Linked DNA regions of Homo sapiens. The protein of the gene in region 1 interacts with the protein of each later gene in a pairwise test. Each region holds a gene or a part of one and is shown on either strand. Other genes may lie near its edges. The genes, in order: ACOT7 and NCOA5.

Evidence for each region.
Region 2: the proteins of ACOT7 (region 1) and NCOA5 interact in a two-hybrid assay, tested with the Homo sapiens proteins (one large-scale study listed by BioGRID).

Annotation. Positions count from the first base shown.
Region 1 is NC_000001.11:6,278,638-6,282,448, reverse strand, and holds part of ACOT7 (cytosolic acyl coenzyme A thioester hydrolase), read left to right. Parts: intron 1-1,162; coding exon 1,163-1,347; intron 1,348-3,811. UniProt on the Homo sapiens protein: Catalyzes the hydrolysis of acyl-CoAs into free fatty acids and coenzyme A (CoASH), regulating their respective intracellular levels.
Region 2 is NC_000020.11:46,069,441-46,073,251, reverse strand, and holds part of NCOA5 (nuclear receptor coactivator 5), read left to right. Parts: intron 1-2,715; coding exon 2,716-3,042; intron 3,043-3,811. UniProt on the Homo sapiens protein: Nuclear receptor coregulator that can have both coactivator and corepressor functions.

The DNA.
Region 1 (3,811 bases):
CAGAATAGAGGCCACGCTGGGCCGCCTGGGAGGGCATTCTGACCGCAGGGCAGCACTTGCCCCGGAAGTCCCCGGGGGTTTCTGCAGCCTGGTGGCCAGTGACATCGATGGTGACACCTTCCCGGGGCCCCAGGTCAGCTCTTGGCTTGAGTCCTTCCATCCCGTAGCTATCCCCCAGGCAGGGTGTCTCATGCCTGCCTATAGGGAAGAGCTGAGCTCCCTGAGATTAAGGGATTATGTTGAGGCCAGGTAGGAGGATGGAGCCCAGGCCGGGGAGGGTGGTGGGGGCAGAAGAGCAGCTCTGGGTCAGGAAGCTTCTGCCAGGATGGACTGTCGTGCCCTGGGGAGCGTGGGGCGTACAGAGAGGTTGGTTAGGGTTGAGGGGGAGAGAGGGACATGGGAACAATGTATGGGAACTGGTGACTTTGGACTTTGTCATGATTCACAGAGAAATGGGGCTGGTGCTTTGAGCATGGAGGACTCTGGCCAAGGGGTGTGGCATCCAGCAGCCCAGAGGAGGAAGCTTTGGTCCCGTGGGCGAGACCAGTGGGGCCAGAAGGGAGGCTTGGCATGCAGTCACATAAGATTCAATCCCACCAAGGGGCACGGGCAGCTGCCCTGTGTCACTGGAGCCCCTGAGGGTGGGAATGGCTGTGGAAGGTGATACAAGGTTCTGTCTTGGTGCTTGGAGCAGTGTAGTGGGGCAGCTGTGGCTCCGGTGGGCACCAGCAAGGCCAATGAATGGACAGTGCAGTTTGCAGATTTGGCCCTGACCTAAGGAAGGGCAGAGCCAGCCGACACCCACAGCTCCTGGAAGGCAGTCTGCGGCCTCCCCCGTGGGGGCACAGTGGCTCTGAAGCCTTTCAGCAGGTGCTGCCACTCCCGGCCAGGAGAGAGCCCGCCTGGGCGGGGGCTTGAACTCATGGCCACCAAAATCCTTCAGTGCTGAATTTTAGCGTAGATAAACCTGCTCACTAGAAAGATAAACATTCATGGGCAACTAACGACACATTCTAATATTCTGTTATTTGAACATCTGGTAGTCAGCCAAGCCACTGCTTCCCCTAACCAAGTGTCTGCCTGCTGACCACAGAAACGCCAGTGTCCCCCGCCCAGCCGTGGGGTGGAGGCCGCCCTGACCCCCGCCCTCCCTTCTCCACAGGCTGCGTCATCACCATCTCGGGACGCATGACCTTCACGAGCAATAAGTCCATGGAGATCGAGGTGTTGGTGGACGCCGACCCTGTTGTGGACAGCTCTCAGAAGCGCTACCGGGCCGCCAGTGCCTTCTTCACCTACGTGTCGCTGAGCCAGGAAGGCAGGTCGCTGCCTGTGCCCCAGCTGGTGGTGAGTGCGCATCCTTGGAACGGCGGCCCCTCCCTGCCAGGCAGCCCTAGGGTCCCTGTGTTTGGGCCTCCAGGGGGAATCTGTGCCTGCATGAGTCCTGTCCTGTCAGTAGGGGTCAGAGTAGGGCTGGGCCTGGCCACTGCCGTGACCGGTGACCTCGGGCTGCGGGGCTGATCCGGTGAGGCCTTGAGAAGGAACGCTTCATAACCAGCGGGTAGGCCTTTGGGCTGTACTCCCAGGGCCCGTGGGGTGGGGCTGGGCAGACAGGACAAGAGAGACAGACCCCTTTAAGAGCGCCTTAGCATGGCTGCTGCCTGGGCGTCCAGGTCGCCTCTGAGTGTGGCGCCTTGGTGTTCCCTGGCATTGTGTAAGAATGCTGGAGGGGGATGAGGACCGTGCCCTGGGTCCCCCATCCTCTGCTGAAGGGCCTGCTGGGAAGCTGGAGGGGTGGGCTCCCTCCAGGTGGTCCTGGCCTGCAGGTCCTGCCTGATGAGACCAAGCCAGGCTGGTGGGCTCTGGGCTGAGGGTCCCAGCCCCTTGGCCTTTCTCCTCCTCATGCAGGGCAGGTGGGGTGGGCGTGTGCAGGCCACACGCACTCGTTCACAGGGGCTGCTGCCCCCAGGTGTCCACATCCCCTGAGCTCTGCCACGTTTGAGAGCTGGTGGTTCTCCGCCTGGCATGGACTCTGTAGGGTCACAGACATCGACAGGGTTCGCGCGGCCCAAAGAGGCAGCTTCCCTGTCTCTGTCATAAGAACAGAGGTTCCCCATCCTGGCTGACCCCAGGGGCTCTGCAGCCTTTGGGGTGGTCCTGATTTCTCTTTGAACCAGCTCTTGTGTCTGTCACTGAGGGGAGCAAGAGGAAAGCAGAGCTGTAGGAGCTTCCTGCCCCTCCGGGGAGCGAGGATGCGGGAACAGAGCAGCTGGGAGCAGGCGGGTGCCCGCAGGCCTCTTGGGAGCTGGCGTTCTCATGGAAGTGGCCAGGCAGGCACCACGGCCCTGCGAGGCTGACCCCTGATTCCAGAGGTTCTCGAGGCCCCTGCCCCCGCGGCGTCTGCTCCCCACGCAGATCCGCAAGCATTTGCTGCTCAGCCTCCCGGAGAGGAGCGTGCACTGAAATCTCTGGGGCGAACATGCACTGAAAACCCATTCCTCTCAGAGCCTGGAGCACGGCCTGTCGCTTCCCCACATGGCTGAGGAGGGCCGCCGAGTCGCCCCAGCTGCTTTGTTTCCCAGTCGAGGCTGAGGCCCCTCCAAGCCCCTCTCCCAGCCCTGCCCCTTCCTGGAGTGGAGGAGCTCATGCCTCACCAGGGCCCGTGGTGGTAGCGCCAGGTGTGGTGTGTGAGCTGTCAGGCCCAGCGAGTACCCTCCGCTGCCAACTCCAGGCCAGCTCTTCGCTGGAGTTGGGTGCCGGCCTCTCCCAGGTCGGGTGGGCTGAGTAGAGGAGCTGATGGTGAACCTGGACTTGATGGATGAGGAGGACTCGGCCAGGCTGAAAGGAAGGAAAGTGAGTGGTGGGTGCCCCCAGCACGGCACTAACACAATGCCTGTGACCCACCCTTGCATGACTCTCGTGACCAGGCCCCTCTTTGACTTGGGGCTTACGAGGCATGCTCCCCTTCTGGTGCGAGGACTGCTCCATGCCTTCAGCCCCACAGCCTCTTCTGTGGCAAAGTACCCTAGGCTGCCACCCTCCTGCCCCATCAGGGCTGGCTCTGCTGCCTGCTCCTTCCTCCCTCATCTGCCCCCACCCCTCCCCATTTACTTGTAAGCCTACCCGCCTTGCCCTGGCCCACCGTGCCACCCATCGGCCCTTGGCAGGATGGTGTCCTCCCTCCACGTCGCCTGGGCTGGTCCGCAGTCGTTCCTCAGCCCCTGACCCTGCTATGAGGCTCCAGCCTCCTCTGTCCTTGACCTTCAGCCCTGTGTCTGGTTCTCCTTTCACCTTGGACACGCCTTCTCCAAACTTGCCTGCTTTTCTCGGCCATGAAGTATGGGCTCCACTCCCACCTGGGCCCGCTCTGGTCTCTCCCCATGGACCCGACGCCCCTCCCATGACGCTTTTCAGCGTGGCTGCTGTCTGTCCTGATGCTGAATCCCCCACCTGACCCAGGCACATTTCCGAAGCTCTCTCCTTCCCCGCCCCCTACCTCTTCCTGCCTCCTGGACAAACTTTCCCAGTTCTGTCTTCCCTCTGCGGGCAGCATGGACAGACGCAAGGACACGCCCTGTCTGCTGTCCGCTCCCTGTCTGTAGCACAGCTGACCAGGCCCTCAGTGAAGCCTGCGCTCCCTGGATGGGGGACCCTGTAGTGTCTGTAGGGATACTCCAGCCTCCCCGGCCACCACACGGTCCCCGAACCCTTGGCTTTGACATGTCCTAACCTGTGGCCCTTCTCTCCTGGGGTGGTCAGATCCATGGTCTGTGCCTCGAGCATCGCCTGTGTGTTGTATTGACTCCCAAAT
Region 2 (3,811 bases), on another chromosome or scaffold:
TAGCTGAGGTGAGGTTTTCCACAAGCTGATGACATCATGATGAATACCTAACGTGTGTAACCATGGTAGACGACAAAAGTATGAGCAAAACATGCTGCCTGCTCTTGAGAGGCTTACAGTTTAGTAGAATAATTCAATTCATTAAACATTTACTGAACTCCTATGGTGTATCCTAGAGCTACAAAGCCTTCAAGAGAACTTCTTATTTGGTAGGGAAGCCACGTAAACAATTACAGAACAGTGTGGTAAGTGCGGTTATAGAAGTTTGTACTGGAGCAAGATTCATTCAACATACATATAGAGCATCTGTCGTATAACAGACATTGTTCTACATAGTGGGTTTGTAGTGCAGAATCAAAGTGACATAGTTCTTGTCCTTGTGGCACTTGTAGTCTAGTAGGGCAGACAGACATTAAGTAAATATGTAATGTCAATTTGTGATAAATGACAAAAGTGAAAACAGTGCTATGAGAGAATTTTAGGGGCAGAAAGTAAACTTTGATTGAATCTAACAATCAGGGAGTAGGGGATATTTATATGCTGAGACCTGGAAGAGGAGTATAGATCTCTTCCTGCTACTCACGTAAAGGGATCAGGAAAGACGTTGGCTAGGCAGAGCTGAAAGGCCGGTGTGGCAAAGAGTGGTGAACTAGGGAGAGGGTGTGACAGGGTTAGAGAAGACAGGAGCCAAGATTATACAGGACCTTCATGGCATTGGTAGAGGTTGTAGATTGAATTCTAAATACTGTGGGAGCCTGGCACAGTGGCACACATCTGTAGTTCCAGCTACTTGGTAGGCTGAGGCAGGAGGATCACTTGAGCCCAGGAGTTCAAGGCTGTAGTGTTCCGTGATCCCACCTGTGAATAGCCACTGCACTCCAGCCTGGGCAGCATAGGTGAGATCTCATCCCTATAAAAATAAATACATACTGTGGGAAACCAGGGAAGGGCTTTACATACGTAACAGATCACTGTAGAGTGATCTTTCTGGAGAAAGATTTGGAAAGAGGCAAAAACAGAAATGAGGAGACTGCTTTAGAAGGCTCTTGCTGTGGTTTGAGGGTGAGATGATTATGCGCTGGCCTTCAGTTTTGCCAAAGAAGGTAAAGGAAAGTGGGCAGAACTGAGAAAGAATGGAGAAAATTTGGAAATGTGGTTGGAAGGGAGGATGAGGCTTTAAGGGAAAGATGACATCCAGTTTCGTGGCTTGAGTAACTGAGTAGTTGGATGTGCCATTTACTGAGATGGGAAGGACTGGAGGAGGAGCATGGTTGTTGGGGAAGATCAAGAGTTCAGGGCAGGTTTTACGGAGAAGGTAATCCTTAAAGCGGGTCAGACATAAGACATTGTTGTAAAAGGGTAAATGCCAGATCAAGATGAGTAATACAGATAGAAAGTGCCCTGAGCTGAGCAGAAGAGATCAGCAGTTAGGAAGGGTAGGGAAGGTTTCTTGGAAGACATGGGACACGAACTTGCCTGTGTGGATTGGATGGTACTTGGATTAGTGCAGGAAAAATATTCCAAGTATAGAAATCAAATAAATAAAACTATTGAGATAGATTATATCTTGTGAGTTATAAGAATTAAGTAGAACTGAGGAGGTTGAATTAGAAATGAGAGGGAGATAATAGCTGTCAGATTTATTAGGCTTTCTAACATAGAAGTTGGCATTTTAGGATAGTTAGTGTATTTATGTGTTGAATGAATTGAAAGCAAGTAGGTTGATTTTTAATTTTGTGTTTTGGAAACCTGTTGGTGTCAGAATAGAAATAAGGGCTTGGATTGGACTTACAAATCCAATGGGAATGGAAAGAAAAAGTGAACGGGACACAAGTGACTTTATTGGGATGGGGGAAGAAAAAGCATAGTTAATATTCAAGAACTTAAAACTTGATAAGTGGAAAGATGATTTTGTCAAAAGTGGAAAAGTGGGGAATGGGACTGATGGGGTTGGGGTAAGAAGTTTTTAATTTTAAATATGTTGAAGAGGAGTTTCCAGTGGGTTGAAACGTCTCATGAAGAACATTGAGTCAGAGCAGACAAAGCATATCTGTGACTTCACTGTTCAGGTTGTTTTTTTGTTTTGTTTTGTTCTCTTTTTTTTTTTTTTAAACCATCTTGAGCAAAATGGAATCAGCTTCTACGTAAACCCTCAGATTGAGAGATACCAATACTCAATAGCCCTGACAAAACAGAGAAACAGATTGTTCTTGGTCCTTTACTGTATGTATCTTATAGTAATTTTTTCCCCTTAATTTTATTATCCTGCCAAGATACTTCAAGTGCATTTTCCGTACTTTAAGGACAGTTCCTTTGATCACTTTTATAAGATTGTGCCATTCGCTCTTTTTTTCTTCATGAGTCTTGCCTCCTTACTCTGTCACTCCAACTTTTTACCCCTTGTAAAGTCTCTTTCAAGCAAGTCTGGTGGAAAGACACTTTCACTTTGAAAGCCTGATGAATACTGTTATCCAGTCAAAACCTTCAGTTTTTGGTCATGCATTCTTTTGATGTCCTAATCTTTTGAGATTGTGGAACCTCTAGACTATTTGCTGACCAGATGGATGACTGGCCTTAAATGTTGAGTCATGTTCTGTTTGGCTGCCCTGTTTTAGAGAAGAATGCTTGGAGGGTGGGGGTTTTCTCATATGAAGAGCTGATGGGTTGGCTACTTTCAATTTCTTTGTCTTAGCATTTTCTTGCTACCTCCCACAGGGATCCATATGGCTTTGGAGACAGTCGAGATTCAAGGCGTGATCGATCCCCAATTCGAGGAAGTCCAAGGAGAGAGCCCAGGGATGGCAGAAATGGCCGGGATGCCCGGGACAGCAGAGACATTCGAGACCCCCGAGACTTGCGGGACCACAGACATAGTAGAGATTTGCGGGATCACAGAGACAGCAGGAGTGTGCGCGACGTTCGGGACGTGAGGGATCTTAGAGACTTTCGTGATCTAAGAGACTCTAGGGATTTTCGAGATCAGCGAGACCCCATGTACGACAGATACAGAGACATGAGAGACTCCCGAGATCCTATGTACAGGTACATACGTAGTTACTCTGCTTGTTTTTTCCTGAGTTCTTTTTATGTATGTTCTGCTAAACTAATTGAAAGCTCTGTAAGAGCAGTCATTTTATCAGCCTTTTATTTCTGGTGACTGTCAAGTGATAGATGTGCTGCTGCTCAATAAATTTTGCTGAATGTATGAATGATTTTCAACATTTTTAACAGAAAATAACAGTGTTGGAAAGGTATGGAGAAATTGAAACTCTGAGAAATTGTAGGTAGGAATGCAAATTGGTATAGCCACTATGGAAAACAGTTTGGCAGTTCCTTAAAAAGTTAAACATAGAATTACCATATGATCTATCAGTTCCGCTCCTGAGTATACACTCAAAACAATTGAAAAGAGGGACTCAGTTGTACATGAATATGCATAGCAGTACTATTCACAATAACCAAAAGGTAAAAACACTCCAGATGTCTATCAGCAGATTAATGGATTTTTTTTTTTTTTCTTTGAGACAAGGTGTCATTCTGTTTCCCAGGCTGGAGTGCAGTGGCATGATCACAGCTCACTGCAGCCTTGACCTCCCAGGCTTAAGTACTTCTCCCACCTCAGCCTCTCAAGTAACTGGGACTACAGGCATATGCCGCCACACCTGGCTAATTTTTTTGTATAGACGTGGAGTCTCACTGTGTTGCCCAGGCTGGTCTTGAACTCCTGAGCTCAAGGTATCCTCCCGCCTTGGCTTCCCAAAGTGCTGAGATTACAGGTGTAAGCCACTGTGTGGATTTGTTTTTAAGTGGT